Homo sapiens: one gene and its partners. The protein of the gene in region 1 binds, or shares a complex with, the protein of each later gene. Each region holds a gene or a part of one and is shown in the gene's direction. Other genes may lie near its edges.

Region 1 (3,230 bases):
CAGGAGTATGTTGCAAGTGAGGGTGAAGAAGATCCAGAAGTTGAATTTTTAAAGTCACTAACAACCAAACAAAAACAGAAACTTCTCAGGTAATTTAGAAGTATATATTTAATAGATTTATTTTTTCCTTAGTATTCATCTCAGTATCGTATTCAACTCTGATCCTAAGAGCTCATGAAGGTCCTTATACCATGCATCACATTTATTGATTATTCTTCACCCATAGCTAATACAATTTTGTCTGTCTTTTCAGTAACATGGAAATGAGTGTAAGATTGTATACTCAGATTGTACCACAAAACGATTGCACTTTTCAGAATGTTTAATTTAGAATTAGACTTATTTATAGCTTTTACTTTTCAAAATAGATTTGTGTGTATCTTCGCACACAATTTGTTCTTAGGAAACATTTTTGGCCATTTTTAAAATGTTTTGTAAAATTTTATGAGAATGCAGAAAGAATGCTTAAATTTAAGGTAAACGTGAATTTTGTTAAACAGACTACCTCTGAATTAAAAGAATCCAAGAAATGTCTGCTGGGTCCAATAGAGGGAGCTCATGATGCTTTCAGTATGTAGAGTTTTGAGAATGGCTAGACAGAACCTAGAGACTTATTTTCAGAGTAACTCAAACATACCATATAAACAAGTTACTCCTCCAAGAATGTGAAGTACTCTAGAAATTCAGAATGTTTTAATAGGATTGTCCTATTTATAAAACTAAACAATTGTTGAAAACAAGTATTAACTATATTATTTTATAAAACCAATATTTCAGAAGTTTAATGTGTACTCTTACTCAGAATTTCTGGAGAATATTCTCTTGAATTTTGATAACGTTGATTAATATTTATATACTATAAAATAGTACATAAAATTAATTTTTCATCTGATTATAGCTATATATTTGCTTTTTTAGTAGTTCCAACTGATGTTACACACCTTTCACAGGCTTTCTTTAGGATGACCCTTTAGAGTGCTATATAATTTCAACTCAGTAAGAATTTAACAAAAAAGTAGTCATTACTATTGAAGTATAGTCAGAAAATTGGCTTGATGCATTTAATTTTTTAATTTAATGTATTCACGCTTTGAATAATTTTAAAGGAAGAAAATGAGTTGTCATTTAGTAAACAATGCGTTCATATATGGATACCAGTTCTTTTTTTTTTTTTTTTTTTTTTTAAGACAGAGTCTCACTCTTTTGCCCAAGCTGGAGTGCAGTGGCATGATTTTGACTCACTGCAACCTCCGCCTCCCGGGTTCAAGCGATTCTTCTGCCTCAGCCTCCTGAGTAGCTGGGATTACAGGCAGGTGCCACCATGCCCAGCTAATTTTTGTATTTTTACTAGAGATGGGGTTTCACCATGTTGGTCAGGCTGGTCTCGAACTCCTGACCTTGTGATCCGCCCGCCGTGGCCTCCCAAAGTGCTGGGATTACAGGTATGAGCCAGCGCGCTCTGCCATGGATACTATTTTTAATAACTTCTAAGAAAATATATTGTTTGTTCATAACTTACAGTTGATGAAATAACTGTTTTTCACACAGTCTGTTACTGTTTATTTCCCAATTACAGGAAATTAGATCGACTGGAGAAGAAAAAAAAGAAAAAAGATAGAAAAAAGAAAAAGTTTCAGAAGAGCAGAAGTAAACACAAAAAACATAAGTCCTCTTCTTCCTCATCTTCCTCCTCCTCCTCCTCTTCCTCTACTGAGACTTCAGAAAGCAGTAGTGAGAGTGAGAGTAACAATAAAGAAAAAAAAATACAAAGGAAGAAAAGAAAGAAAAACAAGTGTTCAGGGCATAACAACAGTGATTCTGAAGAGAAGGACAAGTCTAAGAAGAGAAAGCTTCATGAAGAACTTTCTAGCAGTCACCATAACCGGGAAAAAGCCAAGGAAAAGCCCAGGTTCTTAAAACACGAGAGTTCTAGGGAGGACAGCAAATGGAGCCATTCTGATTCTGACAAAAAGTCCAGAACCCATAAACATAGCCCAGAGAAGAGAGGCTCTGAAAGAAAGGAGGGGAGCAGCAGAAGCCACGGCAGGGAGGAAAGGAGCCGGAGAAGCCGGAGCAGAAGTCCTGGTAGTTACAAGCAAAGGGAGACAAGGAAACGGGCACAGCGAAATCCTGGTGAAGAGCAAAGCAGAAGAAATGACAGCAGAAGCCATGGCACAGACTTGTATAGAGGAGAAAAAATGTACAGAGAGCACCCAGGAGGTACACATACTAAAGTGACACAAAGAGAATGAAGCAGAAGTAGAGAAGAAAGACTGTATGTGACAATTACCTGGGAATAAAAATATCTCCACTTTTTTATTGAATACCTTTAGCAAGGGGTAAATTATGTACTGTTGTCTTTCTAATAAAAAAGCTCAATTTTAATTTTTCATCTCTAGACTGTCAATTCAAGTACAAAACTACATGAGTACTATAAGAATGAATTTTGCAAATATTTGTAAGTAAGCTATTTTGGGGCTGTGGAAATATTTTCTGTTGGTAACTGTTTCTTGTTCCCCATACCAGATAAAAACCGCATATAACTCTGTGACATTTTCTTTGTTCTGAAACATCATTAAAAGAATGACAGTACATTGAATGGGTATAATTTACTTTTTTCAATTCAAATTTGTTATTCTAGGATTTGAATTTGCTTGAAGTGAATTGTAATAATTATTCAAATTCATTAGTATAAATTAAGGATTAATAAATCTTTAAGACTTTTAAGCCCCCTTTAGGTGTTTTGTTCTATAGAATAAGCTGTTTACATTTGGATAATATTAGTTTTCTGTGCAGGTATACAAATTACCTCAAACTTAAAACAGTCCAACGGGGCCAGGCACGGTGGCTTTACGCCTGTAATCACAGCACTTTGGGAGGCCCAGGCGGGCGGATCACCTGAGGTCAGGAGTTTCGAGACCAGCCTAGCCAACATGGTGAAACCCCGTGTCTACTAAAAATACAAAAAATTAGCTGGGCATGGTGGCATGCAGTGTAGTTCTAGCTATTCGGGAGGCTGAGGCAGGAGAAACGCTTGAACCTGGGAGGTGGAGGTTGCAGTGAGCCAAGATTACGCCACTGCACTCCAGCATGGGCGACAGAGTGAGACTCCGTCTCAAAAAAAAAAAAAAAAAAAAAAGCCAGGCATGGTGGTGCGCACCTGTAGTCCCAGCTACTCAGGAGGCTGAGGTGGGAGAATTGCTTGAACCCAGGAGCGGAGGTTGCAGTGA
Region 2 (7,039 bases), on another chromosome or scaffold:
GGATTACAGGCATCCGCCACCACGCCCAGCTAATTTTTTGTATTTTTAGTAGAGACGGGGTTTCACCGTGTTAGCCAGGATGGTCTCGATCTCCTGACCTCGTGATCCGCCCACCTCGGCCTCGCAAAGTGCTGGGATTACAGGTGTGAGCCACCGCGCCCGTCCTGATTTTTTGCACTATTTACACCTCAATCTGTTGGGCACCCCCACGATTATATCCGTAAGAGGGGGAATAAAGGGAGGAGGTCAAGCCTGAAATGTGAATCTAAATCTGGCTGATCCCAAAGCCCTGCTCATAATCACTTTTCCCTTCTGTATGAAGCTAGGATAAAGACTTATTTTATATTCAGTTTCCTTCAGGTTGATGCACATTAACAGGACTCTGACCTTGTCCTCTGTTGTGCTCCCCTAGTTCTTCCAGAAGGCAGCACTGAACGTGCGAGACAATGTTGGGGAGGAGGTGGACGCAGAGCAGCTGATCCAGGAAGCCTGTCGGAGCTGCCTGGAGCAGGTGAGACCAAAGGGGACAAGAGATGCAGGCACAAGGTTTAGCTCTCGAGCCTCTGATAAGAAATGCGATCTTAAGCCGGACGTGGTGGCTCACACATGTAATCCCAGCACTGTGGGAGGCCAAGGTGGGCAGATCACTCAAGGCCAGGAGTTTGAGACCAGCTTGGGCAACGTGGCTAAACCCCATCTCTACAAACAATACGAAAATTAGCTGGGCATGGTGGTGCACGCCTATAATCCTAGCTGCTTGGGAGCCATAGGCACGAGAATCGCTTGAACCTGGGAGACAGAGGTTGCGGTGAGCCGAGATGGCACCACTACACTCCAGCCTGGGTGAAAGAGCAAGATTCTGTCTCAAAAACAAACAAAAAAAGAAATGTGATCTTGTCATCAGTGGTATTTTGGGGAATGCCCAGCAAGCCACATATTGAGATAGGCTTGAGGCTGTTGCTGACAGGGAAAGGAAGGGAAGTAGCTACTATATGTCAGGTACCAGGATAAATGCATTATTTTTTTTTATGTCTCAGAAGAAACTATGTACAGAAGATATCTTTTAATTACTATTTTATAGATGAAGAAATTGTGACTTAGCAAACTCATAGAAGCAGAGAGTAGAATGGCAGTAGCTGGAGGGGAGAAGTGGGGGGATGTTAATCAAAGGGTACAAACTTTTAGTTATAAGATGAACAAGTTCTGGGCAATCTGATGTACAGCATGATGACTATAGTTTATCTCTATTGTTTACTTGAAATTTGCTAAGACCATAGATCTTAAGTGTCCACACACAAAATGGTAGTGGTGGATGTGTTGATTGATTTCATTGTGGTAATCATTTCACTATGTATATCTATGTCAATTCATCACATTGTACACCTTGAATATATACCATTTCTGTTTATCAATTATACATCAATAGAGCTAGAAAAAAATTTTTAAAAGCAAAGCAAAAAAAAAAAAAGAAATGGCTTAAGACACATAATAATTAGAATAGCTAAGATCTGTCTCACCCCTGCAGGTGCGTGGTGGATCAAGTTATCATGGCCCCATTTGGTATCATGGGGATGAGCACCCTGCTGCCTCCCTGCCTCTCTGGTGTGGTCAGGAAGCATGACATCAGGTCTATAAATGACTGTTCCCAAGATAGTAGAGAACCTGTTTACATGTGTCAGCTGCTGTTATTAGGAGGAATTGTTGCCATCACCATTTTATAGGGAGACATCAGGAAAGGTCGCCAATAGTCGCTGGCTCACTTTCTCACCTCCTATTCATTCTCTTCACTTTGTTTTCGCTTCAGTCCCCACTACTTCACTGGAACCCCTCTTGTCGGGGTCGCTAGTAACTTCCGTGTTGTCAAACCCTCTGGTCCCTAACTGTCCTCAACTTACTCAGCTTCTCAGTGACATCTGTCACAATGGATCATTTCGCGTTTCTTGGAATGCTCCTCTGTTGGCTAGAGTGCCTTGACTTTGCTCCAACCTCATTGCCTACTCTTCTCTCTCACCCCCCGCCTCTAACTGTTGGTGCCTTCCCAAGTTCAGTCCTCAAACCCCTTCTCTTTCATGGCTCACTGTTTTCATAGGTGTTTTCATCTAGTCCTGTGGCTTGGAAGCCAATTCAGCCGCTCATAATTCACACATTTATATCTCAGTCCAGAGTTACATTCACCGTTACCCAGTTCCAATCCACTCTTCTCACAGCAGCCAGACTGATCTCCGTAAAGATGAATTAGATCATGTCACTCCCCATTTTAAAAACCCTTCAGTGACTTTCCTGTTGCAGGGAGAATAAAGTCTTAATGCCTTACCATGATCCTGCTGGGAAAACTGGCTAGCCATATGTAGAAAGCCGAAACTGGATCCCTTCCTTACACCTTATACAAAAATTAATTCAAGATGGATTAAAGACTTAAATGTTAGACCTAAAACCATAAAAACCCTAGAAGAAAACCTAGGCAATACCATTCAGGACATAGGCATGGGCAAGGACTTCATGACTAAAACACCAAAAGGAATGGCAACAAAAGCCAAAATTGACAAATGGGATCTAATTAAACTAAAGAGCTTCTGCACAGCAAAAGAAATGACCATCAGAGTGAACAGGCAACCTACAGAATGGGAGAAAATTTTTGCAATCTACTCATCTGACAAAGGGCTAATACCCAGAATCTACAATGAACTCTAACAAATTTACAAGAAAAAAACAAGCAACCCCATCAACAAGTGGCCAAAGGACATGAACAGACACTCCTCAAAAGAAGACATTTATGCAGCCAAAAGACACATGAAAAAATGCTCATCATCACTGGCCATCAGAGAAATGCAAATCAAAACCACAATGAGATACCATCTTACACCAGTTAGAATGGTGATCATTAAAAAGTCAGGAAACAACAGGTGCTGGAGAGGATGTGGAGAAATAGGAACACTTTTACACTGTTGGTGGGACCGTAAACTAGTTCAACCATTGTGGAAGTCAGTGTGGCGATTCCTCAGGGATCTAGAACTAGAAATACCATTTGACCCAGCCATCCCATTACTGGGTATATACCCAAAGGAATATAAATCATGCTGCTATAAAGACACATGCACACATATGTTTATTGTGGCACTATTCACAATAGCAAAGACTTGGAACCAACCCAAATGTCCAACAATGATAGACTGGATTAAGAAAATGTGGCACATATATACCATGGAATACTATGCAGCCATAAAAAGTGATGAGTTCATGTCCTTTTTAGGGACATGGATGAAGCTGGAAACCATCATTCTCAGCAAACTATCACAAGGACAAAAAACCAAACACCGCATGTTCTCACTCATGGGTGGGAATTGAACAATGAGAACACATGGACACAGGAAAGGGAACATCAGACACCGGGGCCTGTCGTGGGGTTGGGGGAGGGGGGAGGGATAGCATTAGGAGATATACCTAATGTTAAATGACGAGTTACTGGGTGCAGCACACCAACAAGGCACATGTATACATATGTAACAAACCTGCATGTTGTGCACATGTACCCTAAAACTTAAAGTATAATTTAAAAAAAAATGCCTTACCATGACCCACAGAGCCTACCCTCGACTGGCTTCTGCCTGCTTCTTTAACTTCATTTCATCTCACCTCTTTTTTATTGACTATACTCTGGCTGTTCTGAACTCCTTTCTGCTCCTCCAGCACAAGCTTAGGCCATTTCACTTGCTGTTCTTAGTACCTGGGGTACTCTACCCTTAACTCTATAAAGCCGGCTCCTTCTTTTCTTCAGATCTTAGTTTAAATATCAGAGAGGTCTTCCCCTCGCACTCCTACCTCTGCTAAAATCTTGAGCTTTACAAGAGTTGAGGCCTAATCTTGTTCACCACTGTATTCCCAGCCCTGGAATATGACTCTTAGTATGTGTACAGAGTTTGCTGAATTATTGAGTAAATGAAGGAACAAACAAATGATAAATGAACAAACAAGCTTCCTGCTCTAATAGAACTTAACAGCCTACTTAAGCAGACAGGTGTGAATTAGATTACCAACAAATGTGTGCATAATTACACATTGAGACTTGATCACCCTTCACTGGAAAGGGACAAAGTTTGGAGGAGAAGAGCATGAATCCAATTATGGATTAGCAGCTTTGAGCCATCCAAGCATAGACATGGGGCAGACTATTTGGTATATAAGTCTAGAGCTCAGAGGATAACCTTTTGTCTACAGTTGAATTATGGAATCGTGGTTTATAGATGTTAATTGAAGCTGTGAGAATAGGTGAGAGCAGATAGAATATGTAATGAGAGAGGATAGGGAAAAGAACCAGATTGAGAAGGAAAAGCCAGCAAAGAAGGCTAAGAAAGAACGGCCAGAGAAGTAGAAGGAACACAGGAAGTGTGGCCACAGGAGCCTGTAGAAAAGAGTGTTTCCAGAAGGGGGAGCCCTCAGCACTGTCAAATGCCACTGGCAGAGGTCGGGTGAACCCAATTCTCCACCTGCTGCACCATCTCCCCTCTGCCCATTCCATCCTTTTCTTTGTCAAATGAGCCAGGTGTTCCCACCTTTGAGCTTCTGCACTCCTCCCTGCTGCTGAAACACTTCTGCCCAGCTTTTTTTACAGCCTCCTTCACATCTCAACTCAGAGGCCACCTTCTGAGCAAGGCCTTCCCTGGCCATTCCCGCAAAGTAGCCCTTCCCCTCTGGTGGTTCTCTGTCACATCTGCCTGGGTTTTTTTCTTTTTTTCTCACAGCATCTATCATGATCCACAGTTACCTTGTTTGTTTCTGTGCTTATTATCCAGATCACCCACAAACTATAAGCTCCACAAGAGCTTGTCCTAGTTACTGCTGTGTCCACAGCACTTAGGTCCCAGGTACTCAGTATTTATTAAAAGAAAAACAGCAGGCCAGGCGCACTGGCTCACGCCTGTAATCCCAACACTTTGGGAGGCTGAGGCGGGCAGATCACGAGGTCAGAAGTGTGAGACTAGCCTAGCCAACGTGATAAAACCCCATCTCTACTAAAAATACCAAAAAAAAAAAAAAAAAAAATTAGCTGGGTGTGGTTGCACGCCTGTAATCCCAGCTACTCAGGAGGCAGAGGCAGGAGAATTGCTTGAACCTGGGAGGCGGAGATTGCAGACAGCCGAGATCGCACCACTGTACTCCAGTCTGGGCAACAGAGCAAGATTCCATGTCAAAAAAAAAAAGAAAAAAGAAAAACAGCAGCTTACTGAGGAGTATGTGTTATACTAATGTATTTAGTTTGAAAAAACATACAGTATGTATTTACATGGGAAAAGCAAGGAAGAATTTACATTGAAACATTAATAGTAGTTTATGTAATGAGATTCCAGGTTTTTCTTATTTTGCTTTTTTACATTTTTTAATTTTTCCAGCCATGATCATTAATTCAAGTTTTTTTAAAAATAGATATCTATTTCTATGCATATAAATATATATATGTGTGTGGCTGGGCGTGGTGGCTCATGCCTGTAATCGCAGCACTTTGGGAGGCCAAGGCAGGTGGATCACCTGAGGTTAAGAGTTCGAGACCAGCCTGGCCAACATGGTGAAACCCCGTTTCTAATAAAAATACAAAAATTAGCTGGGCATGGTGGTGGGCACCTGTAATCTCAGCTGCCTGGGAGGCTGAGGCAGGAGAATCGCTTGAACCCAGGAGGCGGAGGTTGCAGTGAGCTGAGATAGCACCACTGCACTCCAGCCTGGGCGACAAGAGTGAAACTCCATCTCAATTTAAAAAAAAAAAAAAAATATATATATATATATATATATATATATATATATATATATATATATATATATATATATATATTTGGAAGTGGGCCGATCACTTGAGGTCAGGAGTTCAAGACCAGCCTGTCCAACATGGTGAAATCCCGTCTCTTCCAAAAATACAAAAATTAGCTGGGTATGGTGGCGCACCCCTGTAGTCCCAGCTACTTTGGAGGCTGAGGCATGAGAATCACTTGAACCCAGGAGATGGAGGTTGCAGAGAGCCAAGATGGTGCTGCTGCACTCCAGCCTGAGCAACAGAGCAAGACTCTGTCTCCAAAAAAAAAAAAGGAAGTAGGTAGGGTGTGCTTACCCACCAAAATAGTGACTGGTAACACTTGGTCTTTTTCCCTTCAGGCTAAACTGCTCTTTTCAGATGGAGAAAAAGTAATACCCAGATTGACCCATGAGCTTCCAGGAATAAAGGTCAGAGTCACTGTGTTCTCGGGTATTGGAGCGGGAGGTCCTTCAGGCTGGGAGGCAAGTGAAATATGTGGGCCCAGGGAGGTTCCATGTACTTCCATTTGTAGGACCAGGCCCACACAGCATCATGCTGGATGGGCTTCTTTGGCCTGGGTCAGAGCGGGGCTGGAGAGCTGTAGTCCAGGGCTGTCTTCTGCAACTCCAGAAGACCTGCAGCTCCCAGGCACTGGCCTTCCACTGACTCCCTTCCCTTTTCTTTTAGCGTGGCCGTCAGGCAGAAGAAGAATGTGCCCATCGAGGAAGCCCCCTTCCTAAAAAGGTAAACCATTTCCTTGTTTTGTTTTCTGGCTGAAAAAAGGCTTGTCAGGCCGGGTGTGGTGGCTCACACCTGTAATCCCAACACTTTGGGAGGCCAAGCGGGGAGGATCACTTGAGCTCAGGAGTTTTGAGACCAGTCTGGGTAACATAGTGAGACCCTGTCTCTAAAATAAAAAAAAAATTAGCCAGGCATGCTGGCACATTTCTGTCGTCCTAGCTACATGAGAGGCTGCAGTGGGAGGATCACCTGAGCCCAGGAGTTCAAGGCTGTAGTGAGCTATGATCATGCCACTGCACTCCAGGCTGAGTAACAGAGTAAGACCCTGTCTCTCAAAAAAGGCTCTTCACTCCGCAAGGTACTGGGCTTCCTCAAAGCCCTTTTGAGCCTTCCTAGACATGAGAGGCAGTTTTTCTCCCTGTCCCTGTCAAACATCATTTGATCTCTTTGGAAAACCATCTCTGCCAAGTGACCCTGGACCTGCCAATGGGGTATGGGGAGTAACCACAGGGTCAG
Region 3 (7,000 bases), on another chromosome or scaffold:
TGAGGCGGGTGGATCACGAGGTCAGGAGATGGAGACCATCCTGGCTAACATGGTGGAACCCCGTCTCTACTAAAAATACAAAAAATTAGCTGGGCGTGGTGGCACGAGCCTGTAATCCCAGGTACTTAGAAGGCTGAGGCAGGAGAATCACTTGAACCCAGGAGACAGAGGTTGCATTGAGCCGAGATGGTGCCACTGCACTCCAGCCTGGGTTACAGAGCGCGACTCTGTCTCAAAAGAAAAAAAAGAAGAAAAAGAAAAAAGAAAAAAAGAAAGAAAATAAAAGAAACAAACAAAAAACCCCACAAAACAAAAAGTGTGCTAAATAAAGGAAGAACCCTCTGAAATTGTTTCCAGGAGTTTAATTCCTGCCTTAGCATGACCTGTAAGTCCCTATGCCATCTGCCCCTAGTTTCTTCACTCACGTGGTTCTGGCCACACTGGTCTCTCTTCTTCTGATTTTTTTTTTTTTTTTGAGACAGAGTCTCACTCTGTTACCAAGGATGGAGCACAATGGCGTGATCTCGGCTCACTGCAACCGCTGCCTCCCAGGTTCAAGAGATTCTCATGCCTCAGCCTCCCGAGTAGCTGGGACTACAGGTGTGCACCACCATGCCCAGATAATTTTTTGTATTTTTAGTAGAGATGGGGTTTCAACATGTTGGCCAGGCTGGTCTCGAACTCCTGGGCTCAAGTGATCAGCCTACCTGGGCCCCCCAAATTGCTGGGATTACAAGCATAAGCCACCATGCCTGGCCTCTCTGCTGTCTTTCAAAAGGGTTCCACATCTTCCTGCCTCAGTGCCTGTGCACGTGCTGTTCCCTCTCTTCTTCCCCCAGATATTTTCATAGGACCCTTCCTTACTTCCTTCAGATCTCTGCTCAATGCAATCTCACCAGAGAAGCCTTTACTGACCTGTATAAAACAATACCCTCTGACCCCATCCTCTTTCCTTTGTTTTTCTTCAAGGTATAACATACTGCATTATAAATGTATTTGCAGCCAGGCACGGTGGCTCACTCCTGTAATCCCAGCATGTTGGGAGGCCAAGGCAGGAAGACTGCTTGAGCCTAGGAGTTCAAAACCAGCCTGGCCAACATGGCAAAACCCTGTCTCTACTAAAAATACAAAAAATTAGCTGGGTGTGGTGGTGCAGGCCTGTAGTACCAGCTACTCAGGAGGCTGAGGTGGTATAATAGCTTGGGCCCAGGAAGTCAAGGATGCAGCGAGGCATGATTACAACAATGCACTTCAGCCTAGGTGACATAGTGAGACCCTGTATCAAAAAAATACAACAAAAAAAGTAAATGCATTTGCTTGTCCCCCTGTAGAGGTATGCTGTCAGTACCAGAGCCACTCGCTACAAGGTTCCATGGAGCCCTGGAAATGTGGCTGGTCTGAATTGAGATGTCCCGTGAATGTAAAATACTGTATATGTGGGGTTTTAAAGACAGCCCCAAAAGTGTAAATTATCTCTTAGTTTTTATACTGATAATGTGTTGAAATATTTGGGATTAAATATTACCAAATTAATTTCACTTGTGTTTCTTTCTCTTTTATTTTATTATTTACTTTTATTTATTTGATTTTTAGGTTTGGGTGTGTTGCCCAGGCTGGTCTTGACCTCCTGAACTCAAGCAATCCTCCTGCCTCAGCCTCTCAAAGTGTTGAGATTACAGGTGTGAACCACCACACCCGTCCCAAGCCATTTTTTTTTTTTTTTAAGAGAATGGGTCCCACTATGTTGCCCAGGCTGGTGCAGTGGCTCTACACAGACAGGGCCATAGCTCACTGCAGTCTCCAACTCTTGGGTTCAAGTGATCCTCCTGTCTCAGCCTCACAAGTAGCTGGGCTACAAGTGCCAGCCGCCACACCTGCCTTCTTTACATTTTGTTCCTTTTAAACATGGCTACTAGAAAATGTAAAATTACATAAGTGGCTGGTGCTTGAAGTTTGCATTTTATTACTACTGAACAGCACTGCTCTAAAACATAAGTTCCAGGAGGAGAGGAATGTCTGTTTGACCCAGACACTATATCTGAGCACCTAGAACAGAGACCCAATAAAAACTTGCTAAATGAAGGGATCCTAAAGCAAGATGACAGGCCCTCTTCTTTCCTCTGTTTCCTCCCCCAATAATCAATTAAAAAAAAAAAAAACTTTGAGGTATAATTTACATAAAAGTCACTCACTTAAGTGTATACTTACTGATTTTTAGAAATTTACTGAGTTGTGCAACCATCACCATAACCCTTTTTTTCCCCCATCAGAGTCTCGCTCTATCCCCCAGTCTGGGGTGCAATGGCCTGATCATATAGCTCACTGCAGCCTTGGACTCCCAGGCTCAAGCGATCCTCCTGCCTCAGCCTCCCAAGTAGCTGGGACTACAGGCGCATGCCACCATCTCCAGTTAATTTTTTTTTTTTTTTTTTTTTAGAGACAGGGTTTCACTAGGTTGCCCAGGTTGGTCTCAAACTCCTAGGCTCAAGGGATCCTCCTACCTTGGCCTCCCAAAGAGCTGGGATTACAGGCGTGAGCCACCACGCCTGGCCCATAGCTCAGTTTTAGAATATTTCCATTACCCAGATAAGATCCGCGATGCCCCTTTCCACCCCGGGCAACCACTAATCTGCTCTCATTCTCCACAGATCTTCAGCACTCCGTTTCTAAGGAATGAATTATCTGCCTCAGTTGCAGGACAGTTCAAACCCCTTGGCCAGGTCGGGCACGGTGGCTCAGGTCTGTAATCCCAGCACTTTGGGAGGCAGAAGCAGGCGGATCACCTGATCACCCGAGGTCAGGAATTTAAGACCAGCCTGGCCAACATGGTGAAACCCCGTCTCTACTGAAAATACAACAAATTAGCCGGGCGTGGTGGCACGTGCCTGTAATCCCAGCTACTCGGGAGGCTGAGACAGGAGAATCGCTTTAACCCGGGAGGCGGAGATTGCAGTGAGCCGAGATCGCACCACTGAACTCCAGCCTGGGCGGCAGAACAAGACCCTGTCTCAAAAAAAAAAAAAAAGAAAAAAAAGATGGTCCTTGGCCAGTCGGCACCAGGGCCTACCGCCCTTCCCAACACAGCTCAGCACGGAGCAGGGGCCCCAGATGGCTCAGCCTTTCCCCAAAGAAGGGAGGAATAGGCTGGGCGCGGTGGCTCTCACCTATAATCCCAATGCTTTGGGAGACTGAGGCAGGAGGATCGCTTGAGCCCAGGGGAACCAGGCTAGCCTGGGCAACATGGCGAGACCTTATCTCTAAAAAAAATGTAAAAATTAGCAAGGTGTGGCGGCGCCCGCCTGTGGTCGCTGCTACTCAAGAGACTGAGGCAGGAGGATCGCCTGAGCCCAGGAAGGGGAGGGTGCGGCAGCCGTGATCGCAGCCTGGGGAACAGGGAGAGACCCTGTCTCTGAAAAAAATTTTAAAAAAAGGGAGGAGCAGCTCGCCCCACATCTCCCCCACCCAATGACGCAGAAGAGACCCTGAGAGACTCCCGCGCTCGCGACAGGGTCCTCGGAAACAGACGATACGGCCTCCCAGCACCAGGACGCTGCTCAGAGGCCCCTCCGGGGACTGGGGGCAGCCATCCAGCGGCCGCCACCGCGTTCTAACACCGCCCACCAGGAACAATGGCTGGAGTGGAGGCTCCCGGGACTCTCGGCCTCGGGATGCGGGTCTTGGGGGACTGGCCCCTCCCCCCGCCGCTCCTCCCCGGCTCACTCTTCTCACTCTCCGCCCTCAACCGCCCCCTCCCAAAATGGCGACCAACCGCCTCCTTTCCCGCCCGCGGCAAGCCCCGCCCCTCGGAGAAGCAGCCGAGAGCGCGCGGCCAGGAGGCACGCGCGAGGCCGCTCTGGGAGGCGTGAGGCGGCCCGCGGTCACGTACGCGCGCCTGCGCCGCGCGTGAGCGAGGAGATCCGGGGGTGGGCCGGGCTGCGCGTGCGCCCCGGGCGGCGCGGGGAAGGCGGGAGGCCGCTGGGAGCCCCGCGAGGCGCCAGGCGCGAGGCCCGGCGCGCGAGCCCCCGGGGGCGGGTAAAACCCGGTTGCTGCTGCCCCTGCCCCTCCCTTTCCTCCTTATCCCCCATTACTATTATTTCCTCTTTTTTCAACCCCTCCCCCTTTTTACAATCTCATTCGTTTCTTGATTTCTTTTTTTAGGGGGCCCCATCTGCCTTTCGAGGGGCGCAGCAGGCGCGGCGGGCGCCCCTCACCCTGCGTCACGCACGCATCTTCTGCAACCCAACAGCTCCGGGCCCCGCTGCACCCCACAGGCCCTTCCCCCTTGGAGAAGACCCTCCTCAGGATCCCCTGGCCCGCTGCACCCCCTTTTCTTTCCCACTCCGTCCCCCCGGGCCTCAACTGCCCCCTCGCAGCCCCCCAGCTCGCGCCGCGGGCCCTACCCGACCTCCCCACCTTCTGCATCTGGGCCTTGCATTCGCTAGCCTCTTCCAGGCCCCTTCTGCTCAGAATCCCCCTTCCTCCTCCATAGTCCCACTTTGGGGCACCCAGATTTATCCCTTTTTAGGATCTTCCAGCAAAACTCCAAATCTCTCCTCCTTTCCTTGACATGCCCCTCCCCCTCCTTTAAGTAACTTCCCTTAGCGCAAAAAAAGAAAAAAAATTAACCCAGTTTTTTTTCATCCGTTCAGGATCACTTTCCAGCAAAATTTTTTTCTTCACACCTAGAGTGCCCCTTTTTGGAATATCTTCGCTTAGAACAAACCAACTAATTCCTTCCAGTTTCTCTCTCGTCTAATATTTATGTTTCCAGTCCTCCTCACCTACCCCCAACTTTCCAGCAAATATCCTTATTTTATCACCAATTCTGCCCTAATTAAGTTTCTCCCGGTAAAATTCTCTAGGTCTCTTCCCACGGGGGAAAAATAAGGAAAGAAGGAACAATTATTTCTTCTTACCAAAAAAACCTTTCCTCCTCACTCAAATCTCCGCTGTTGATACTGCTTTCTGCCTTCTTCCAAAAATTGTTGCTCTTCTCCATTTTCACATCTCTGTTCTTGTTTCTTTGGGACCCAAGTCCTGACTGCTTCTTCCTTCCCACCACCTGCTTTCAGGGCAAAAGAAATTGGGAGTATCCTGCATTTACCACTCAGTGTTCCAGGAGGACATATCCAGTGGTCTGCTTGTCACCTGAACCCCCTCCCTGTGGGGCCTAAACTGGGTCCTCCTGTTCCCTGGAGATTCACTAACTTGCTCTTCTGGTGAGTTTCCTTCCTTTGCACTGAGCCAAAGACACCTGCTTTGTTGGATAGATCTCGTTCTTTCTCAAGAGGGTTTCTAAGCAATACCAAAGTCCGTACTAATGGTAATCATACAAGTTACTGCTTTGGAGAAGTCAAACAGGGAAAAGGGCTATTTATTGTGCATGTTGACCTGTTAGGAGGAGTGCAGACATAGATTGATGTGTGTTTCTTTATTGATGTTTATTGCAAAAAACGTTTTTCCTTCCCTAGCTCAGGGTGGCAACTCAGATACTTACAGGTAAGGCACAGGTAAAGGGAAGAAGTAAGGATTGTCGTGAAGCAAAGATTGTATGTCCCATCTAAGTGATGCCAGGCAGTGGAAATGCCAGGCCAGTGTTGCCAGAACTTTCGATTTCTTTGAGAAGAGGCCAGAAAACTATCCTTAGGTGAAACCTTCTGATTTTTAAATGCTAGCAACACATTTGATAATTTAAGAATTAAATAAGACAGCGTAGGCTGGGCGCAGTGGCTCATGCCTGTAATCCCAGCACTTTGGGAGGCCGAGGCGGCTGAGGAGTTTGAGACCAGCCTGGCCAATATAGTAAAACCCTGTCTCTACTAAAAATACAAAAAATTAGTTGGATGTGGTGGCAGGCGCCTGTAGTCCCAGCTACTGGGAAGGCTGAAGCATGAGAATCGCTTGAACCTGGGAGGCGGAGGTTGTGGTGAGCCGAGATTGCACCACTGCACTCCAACCTGGGCAACAGAGCGAGACTCCGTCTCAAAAAAAAAAAAGACAGCATAGGGAACTTATAAAATATGCCTGCCGGCCACCACTTTGGAATTTTCAGTTTCGGGTTTCTTTCTTTTAGATGCGTGTCTGCTTGGGCACATGTGTATGTGGACATGCAGGACTTTTTCTTATTGGAATAGTAGTTCTCAAACTTTTTTTTTTTTTTTCTTTTTGAGATGGAGTCTCTCTCTGTTTCCCAGGCTGGAGTGCAGTGGTGCGATCTCGGCTCACTGCAACCTCTGCCTCCTGGGTTCAAGCAATTCTCCTGCCTCAGCCTCCCAAGTAGCTGGGACTGCAGGCGTGCACCACCACGCCCAGCTAATTTAAAACTTTTGCTCTTAAGACCCCTTTGCACTTAAAAATTATTGAAGGCTGTAGAGAATTTTTGTTTATGTAAACTTTATCTACTGGCATTTGCTGTATTAGAAGTTTAAACTAATCAACTTTCAAAATGTTTATTAATTGATTTTAAAAGGGCAGTAATAAACCCATTATATATAAACAAAAAAACAAAATGCGCTTTTTTTTTTTTTTTTTTTTTTTTAGGACAGAGTCTTGCTCTGTCGCCCAGACTGGAGTGCATTGGCACTATCTCAGCTCACTGCAAACTCTACCTCCCAGGTTCAAGTGATTCTCATGCCTCAGCCTCCTGAGTACCTGGGATTACAGGTGCCCACCACCATGCCCGGCTAATTTTTGTATTTTTAGTAGAGACGGGTTTTCACCATGTTGGCAAGGCGGTCTCAAACTCCTGGCCTCCAGTGATCTGCCTGCGTCAGCCTCCCAAAGTGCTGGGATTACAGGCATGAACCACCACGCCCAGCCAAAATGGACTTTTTTTTTTTTGGAGATGGAGTCTCGCTCTGTCGCCCAGGCTGGAGTGCAGTGGAGTGATCTCGGCTTGCTGCAAGCTCTACCTCCTGGGTTCACACCATTCTCCTGCCTCAGCCTCCCGAGTAGCTGGGACAACAGGCACCCGCTACCACTCCTGGCTAATTTTTTGTAT
Region 4 (6,508 bases), on another chromosome or scaffold:
AAGGTGGAGGGGGTGGCAATGGAGAGAAGTAGATGATCTGAGAGGTGTGTGTGTGTGTGTGTGTATATATATATATATACACACACACACACACATATATATGTTTTTTTTTTTCTTTTTTGAGATGGAGTCTTGCTCTGTCACCCAGGCTGGAGTGCAGTGGCACGATCTTGGCTCAGTGCAAGCTCTGCCTCCTGGGTTCAAGCATTTCTCCTGCCTCAGCCTCCTGAGTAGCTGGGACTACTACAAAGGCGTGAGCACCGCGCCGGGCGTGAGTTATATTTTCAAGGCTAGAATTGACAGAACTTGGGTTGATGAGAATAGTTGATTAGCAGGCAGGGTGCCAGGGAGGGTGTTGAGCAGAACAGAGGGGGGACTGTGCTTTATTTTAAAATTTTTATTGAGACACAGCATATAAAGTATACCCAAATCTTAAGGGTATAACATAATGAATTTCACTATCAAGATAAAGATTTAGAACATTTATAGTTTTCTTGTGCTCCTTTCAGGCAATACCTAAAGGTATTTACCTTGTCTTTTGATAACCTCCTCCACATCTTCCTCTGGTTCCTTTTAACAGGGAATGCGTTGAATATGTCAAGAGCTTCAATATCCCTCTACTCGTGCTGGGTGGTGGTGGTTATACTGTCCGAAATGTTGCCCGCTGCTGGTGAGCACTCTCCTGATTTCCTCCCCTGTTGTCCAGTGTGAGCTAGGGTGTCCCTCAGATATGGCCACATGGGTCCTTCAGCCCACTTGGTCAGCCTGCTCCCCTCTGCTGGTTGGTTTCAGGACATATGAGACATCGCTGCTGGTAGAAGAGGCCATTAGTGAGGAGCTTCCCTATAGTGGTAAGGACCACCCCACAACACCCCCATAACAGGAAGGCCATTCTCACCAGATTCCAGAATGACCTGGTTTGAAGGCACATGGGAAATTTTACACTCTCAGAGCTCTGCAGACTAAACCCCTGGGCTCAGAGCAGGGAAGAGATTGGGCAGCTATTATGTAGGTGCTCTGGATGGGAAGGAAAAAGATTGGGAAGTCTTGTTAGCTGCCTTTCTCAGTCTGAGCCATACTTTCTCCTCTCCTCCCCAAGAATACTTCGAGTACTTTGCCCCAGACTTCACACTTCATCCAGATGTCAGCACCCGCATCGAGAATCAGAACTCACGCCAGGTCAGCAGCTCAGAAAAGCTGAGCACAAACTTCTCCTGAAAGGTGGAGCCCAGGAGAGGTCAAAGATGTGGGAAGTAGGAAAAACCAAAGAGAAGGAAGTTCTAAGCCATCACAGTCACTGTTATTGACTAGGAGGCAGTCCAGTTTAAAGTAGAGGCAGTTGGGGTTGGTGGGGAGGGAGAGCTATCAGTTGGGGGACCTGAACTAGAGGTACCACTGAGATGAAAACCAGTATGGTAGGGGTAAAAGGCAGCTAGGAGATTCCATGTCCTGGGAATCTCTGGAAACTGCTCACTCTGTATTCCTCATTTCCAACCAGTATCTGGACCAGATCCGCCAGACAATCTTTGAAAACCTGAAGATGCTGAACCATGCACCTAGTGTCCAGATTCATGACGTGCCTGCAGACCTCCTGACCTATGACAGGACTGATGAGGCTGATGCAGAGGAGAGGGGTCCTGAGGAGAACTATAGCAGGTCTGGGAGCAGGGACTTCAGCCTACTTTCAATAGGCTTGCTGGGGAGGTTTAAAAGGGAAAAAGTAAATGGGAAGGTATTAGTTTAATTGCCTCTGGCTTACCTCCTTTAGTCTGCTACAATTTCCTCACTCTTTTCTTTGTTATTTTTAATGACAAAAGTAACACGTATTTATTGCAAAATTTTAAAACAGCACCAAAATATGGTGTTGGCGTTCACACAATCCCAGACCTATTCCACAGGAGTAACCACTGTTAATAGTTTTTATTGTTTTGGATAGACCTTTTTCTATAGATTGCAAATATACTATTCTGTATGTACATATAAACAAACACATATACACTCATTTACAGTTTGTGTGGTTTTTGGTTTTTCGTAAATACAAATAGGGTCATTCTACGTATGCTGCTTTACATCATATAGCTGTTTTCAGCTAGCTAATATAGATCTGCTTCAGTATTTTATCAGCTGTATAATAATTTACTATGTGGATAGATTATTTTCCATTTTTTTGGTATTACAATAATAATGTGGCAATGAACCCCCTTACATTATACATCTTTGCATTCTTGTTTGAGTGGGTTAGATAGTAGAATGGTTGCTGCTAGGTCAAAGGCTGTGTGCATTAATTTTTTTTTTTTTTTTTTTTTTGAGACAGGGTCTCATTCTGTCACCCAGGCTGGAGTACAGTGGCATGATTATAGCTCACTGCAATCTTGAACTCCTGGGTTCAAGCGATCCTCCTGCCTCAGCCCCTCGAGTAGCTGGAATCATAGGTGTGCACCACGACACCTGGCTAATTTTTTTTTTTTTTTTTTTTTTTTTTTTTTTTTTTGGTAGAGACGGAGTCTTGCCTTGTTGCCCAGGCTGGTCTCAAACTCCTGGGCTCAAATGTCCTCCTGCCCCAGCCTTCCAAAGTGCTGGGATTATAGGCGTGAGCCACTGAGCCTGGCCTAAAATTTTTTATATTTGCTGCCAAATTGCCGTCCAGAAAGTCTGTAGCACCCTATAGTCTTGCCAGCATTTTTCTCAGTCTTTCCAGGTCTTGAGCTGGACAGGTCACTGCCTGCGTAATACTCTCTAAGGCTCTTTGATTTCTTTGCTCTGTTAATTTTTTCGGGTGGGATAATTGCATTGTGGTTATGTTTTTTTTTTTTTTTTAAAAGTCTTTATCTTTCTGAGATACATACAAAATATTTGTAGATGGAATGAATTAGGGGGGAAAAAGGATAGGATGGAATTTTTTTTTAATCCCAAAACTTTGCTGAAAAATGAAAGGGAAAGACAACAGAACCAAGAAGTGCAGAAACAGATGCACTTAATGGGGAACAGATTTCCTTACATGACTGAGGGATAACCACAGCTGGACACTTGTGGGACACGCTGTCTTGCTCCCACGCAGGGTTAGAGGTTTGAGCCGGCTCTGCTGCAGAGCCTGATGGGCTTCTCAGCCCCTTCTAGAATCTGCTTCTGTCTTAGAATTCAGGCCTCCGAATCTCTCCTCTGGACCTGGGCTTTACTGCTCTGACTCTTGGGGATCTCTGCAACTCTCTTCCTCCAAGGATATCCCCCGATCCCTTCTGAGTGAGGAAGTGTCTGAACATCTGGAAGTGTCTGGCTTCAGGGCTTCCAGGACTATTGGAAATTGCTTTTCATTGTCTGGTTTGGTTTGGTAAAACCTGTTTTTAAGTTCTTCCTTTTGGGTTTTTTATCAATAGCTCCAGGCTGGCATCTGGACCTAGTCTCTGCATTATAATAATACCAAGCCCTGTCACAGCCAGCAGAAGCCTCAGGCCTCTTCCTGTTCCTAAGCCCTACCTCTCTGTCAGGCCACCCACTGAGTTTCTGTTCTTCTTTGATGCCTATAGCTCCAGCTTGCATATGACTTGCAGAGTAGAAATAGGAAGAGTTACCACTTTTTGTAGGTTTGCCAAGCACCAGACACTACTAAGTGCTATCTATTACAACATATATATGATCATTCTGTTGCCATCAGACAACTCTGATGGCTCTTATTTTCAGATTAACACGGGAGGAATCTAAGGCTCAGAGAGTCTAAGTAACTTTCTTTCTTTCTTTTTTTTGAGACGGAGTTTCGCTCTTTTTGCCCAGGCTGGAGTGCAATGGCATGATCTCAGCTCACCACAACCTCTGCCTCCCGGGTTCAAGCGATTCTCCTGCCTTAGCCTCCCAAGTAGCTGGATTACAGGCATGAGCCTCCACGCCTGGCTAATTTTTTTTGTATTTTTAGAAGAGATGGGGTTTCTCCATGTTAGTCAGGCTGGTCTCGAACTCCTGACCTCAGGTGATCTGCCTGCCTCGGCCTCCCAAAGTGCTAGGATTACAGGCTACAGGTGTGAGCCACCGCCCCCGGCGAGACTTAAGTAACTTTCTGAAGGTCACATGGCTAGTTAAAGATCAGGGCTGAGATTCAACCTGATTCTCTGACTCCACACCTTTAACCCTGTGCACTTAGAAGTAACTGAGACATTGCTCACCATGCAGATAAGGCCTTTCCTGGCTTAGTGCCTCAGCTTCTCTTTGATGACTTTCTCAATTCTCTGTGTCCCAGAGAATACTTTTTCTTTTCTTTCTTTTTTTTTTTTGAGATGGAGTCTCACTCTGTTGCCAGGCTGGAGTGCAGTGGCTAATCCCGGCTCACTGCAACCTCCGCCTCCCAGGTTCAAGCGATTCTCCTGCCTCAGCCTCCTCAGTAGCTGAGATTACAGGCATGTGCCACCACACCCGGCTAACTTTAGTATTTTTAGTAGAGACGGGGTTTCACCATGTTGGCCAGGATGGTCTTGATCTCTTGACCTTGTGATCCACCTGCCTTGGCCTCCCAAAGTGCTGGGATTACAGGTGTGAGCTACCACGCCCGGCTTTTGAGAATACTTTTTCAAAAAGAAAGAAACCAATATTGAGTACCTGTTGGGCCCTGTTTTGCTTTCACATCCATTCTTTCACTATGGGTTTATAATACCACGTCACTCTTCTTAAAATTAAAACTCTCCTTTACCTTGCACTTAGAAGAAAATCCAAAATTTTGACTGTGGCTTAAAAAGGTCCTGCATGCTAGCCCTTACCTACATCCAGGATCTCATCTCTAACTACTCTCCTCCATGCACAGTGCTCCCGGCTGTCCTGGCCTCCTTGTTCTTACTGGAATACATCAGTCTCTTTCCATTTCATGACCTCTGTAGTTGGTTTTCTTGCAGCTTGGAATGGCCTTCCTGAAGTCTTTGCCTGCTTAGCTCCTCCTCAGACTTTAGGTCTTATGTCCCAATAGTCCTGTCTGAAATTTCACCCTTTTCCTCTCATCACCTTCAGTCCTATCACTTCATTTTATTAATTGTACTCTCCATCATCTGAAATTATTATATTTATTTACTTTGTTAGTTACTAGTCTCATTTATTAGGTAAGCTTTTTGAGGATAGACAACCTTGTCCAGCTTGTTACTCTACTGTATTGCTAAGGTTTATGACAGTGTCTGTATAGAGTAGTTCCTTAATGTTTATTTGATACGTGAATGGGTGAATGAATAGCAGTCTCTACCAACAAGAGGAGGAGTGGTTCTCAACGGGGCCTGAGAAATGGCTTTGGAAAAGGGTGCTGGGAGAAGATTAGAACTTAGAGTGAGATCCTGACCTCTCTCCCCTTGCTTTGCAGGCCAGAGGCACCCAATGAGTTCTATGATGGAGACCATGACAATGACAAGGAAAGCGATGTGGAGATTTAAGAGTGGCTTGGGATGCTGTGTCCCAAGGAATTTCTTTTCACCTCTTGGTTGGGCTGGAGGGAAAAGGAGTGGCTCCTAGAGTCCTGGGGGTCACCCCAGGGCTTTTGCTGACTCTGGGAAAGAGTCTGGAGACCACATTTGGTTCTCGAACCATCTACCTGCTTTTCCTCTCTCTCCCAAGGCCTGACAATGGTACCTATTAGGGATGAGATACAGACAAGGATAGCTATCTGGGACATTATTGGCAGTGGGCCCTGGAGGCCAGTCCCTAGCCCCCCTTGCCCCTTATTTCTTCCCTGCTTCCCTCGAACCCAGAGATTTTTGAGGGATGAACGGGTAGACAAGGACTGAGATTGCCTCTGACTTCCTCCTCCCCTGGGTTCTGACTTCTTCCTCCCCTTGCTTCCAGGGAAGATGAAGAGAGAGAGATTTGGAAGGGGCTCTGGCTCCCTAACACCTGAATCCCAGATGATGGGAAGTATGTTTTCAAGTGTGGGGAGGATATGAAAATGTTCTGTTCTCACTTTTGGCTTTATGTCCATTTTACCACTGTTTTTATCCAATAAACTAAGTCGGTATTTTTTGTACCTTTCGCCTTTCTAGGAATGTTAATTCTTGCTAGTTTCCTATTTATGAAAGGAGAGGGAAATGGGCATGATGATGCATGTAATAAAAGCATAGTTAACATTCATTCAGCACTTATCCTACGTTAGGCCCTGTGTATGTATTCTACATTTATTATTGTAAATATAAGAAGTTAATAGAGGATTTTGGTTAAGAGTTAGACAAACCTGGGCAGATTTGAGAGGAGTAGAAGATGACTTCAGGTTTTTGAATCTGGGTGTTTAGAGTAGTGATGCTAGTTGGTGAAGATACACTGAGATAAAACATGTTAAGTGCTTAGCACAGTGCCTGACAGAAGAAGTTGCCCATTATCTGTCTATGTGAAGAACAATGCTAAATACTGTAGTAGCCACAAACATGAACCTTTCTCTAGAAGAGTTTACATTCCAGTCAGTAGTATGATAAATATTGTAGCAGATACAGACTGATACAAGAAAGAGGACTGATAGATGGGTCACTTCCTCCCCTCCATTCTCTGATTCTGTCTG

The links.
Region 2: CIRSR (region 1) and DNTTIP1 share a complex: the UniProt entries of both Homo sapiens proteins name them as parts of the histone deacetylase complex.
Region 3: CIRSR (region 1) and ZNF541 share a complex: the UniProt entries of both Homo sapiens proteins name them as parts of the histone deacetylase complex.
Region 4: CIRSR (region 1) and HDAC3 share a complex: the UniProt entries of both Homo sapiens proteins name them as parts of the notch corepressor complex.

The regions. Positions count from the first base shown.
Region 1 is NC_000002.12:174,347,519-174,350,748, reverse strand, and holds the end of CIRSR (corepressor interacting with RBPJ 1), read left to right. Parts: intron 1-3; coding exon 4-89; intron 90-1,576; coding exon 1,577-2,252; 3' UTR 2,253-2,727; downstream 2,728-3,230. UniProt on the Homo sapiens protein: May modulate splice site selection during alternative splicing of pre-mRNAs. Regulates transcription and acts as corepressor for RBPJ. Recruits RBPJ to the Sin3-histone deacetylase complex (HDAC). Required for RBPJ-mediated repression of transcription.
Region 2 is NC_000020.11:45,794,933-45,801,971, forward strand, and holds part of DNTTIP1 (deoxynucleotidyltransferase terminal-interacting protein 1), read left to right. Parts: intron 1-412; coding exon 413-511; intron 512-6,141; coding exon 6,142-6,210; intron 6,211-6,469; coding exon 6,470-6,526; intron 6,527-7,039. UniProt on the Homo sapiens protein: Increases DNTT terminal deoxynucleotidyltransferase activity (in vitro). Also acts as a transcriptional regulator, binding to the consensus sequence 5'-GNTGCATG-3' following an AT-tract.
Region 3 is NC_000019.10:47,570,115-47,577,114, reverse strand, and holds the start of ZNF541 (zinc finger protein 541), read left to right. Parts: upstream 1-3,966; 5' UTR 3,967-4,032; intron 4,033-4,082; exon of another isoform or gene 4,083-5,072; 5' UTR 5,073-5,219; intron 5,220-7,000. UniProt on the Homo sapiens protein: Transcription regulator which is essential for male fertility and for the completion of meiotic prophase in spermatocytes.
Region 4 is NC_000005.10:141,620,356-141,626,863, reverse strand, and holds the end of HDAC3 (histone deacetylase 3), read left to right. Parts: intron 1-580; coding exon 581-670; intron 671-792; coding exon 793-851; intron 852-1,099; coding exon 1,100-1,179; intron 1,180-1,498; coding exon 1,499-1,656; coding exon of another isoform or gene 1,657-1,744; exon of another isoform or gene 1,745-2,002; intron 2,003-5,326; coding exon 5,327-5,396; 3' UTR 5,397-5,983; downstream 5,984-6,508. UniProt on the Homo sapiens protein: Histone deacetylase that catalyzes the deacetylation of lysine residues on the N-terminal part of the core histones (H2A, H2B, H3 and H4), and some other non-histone substrates.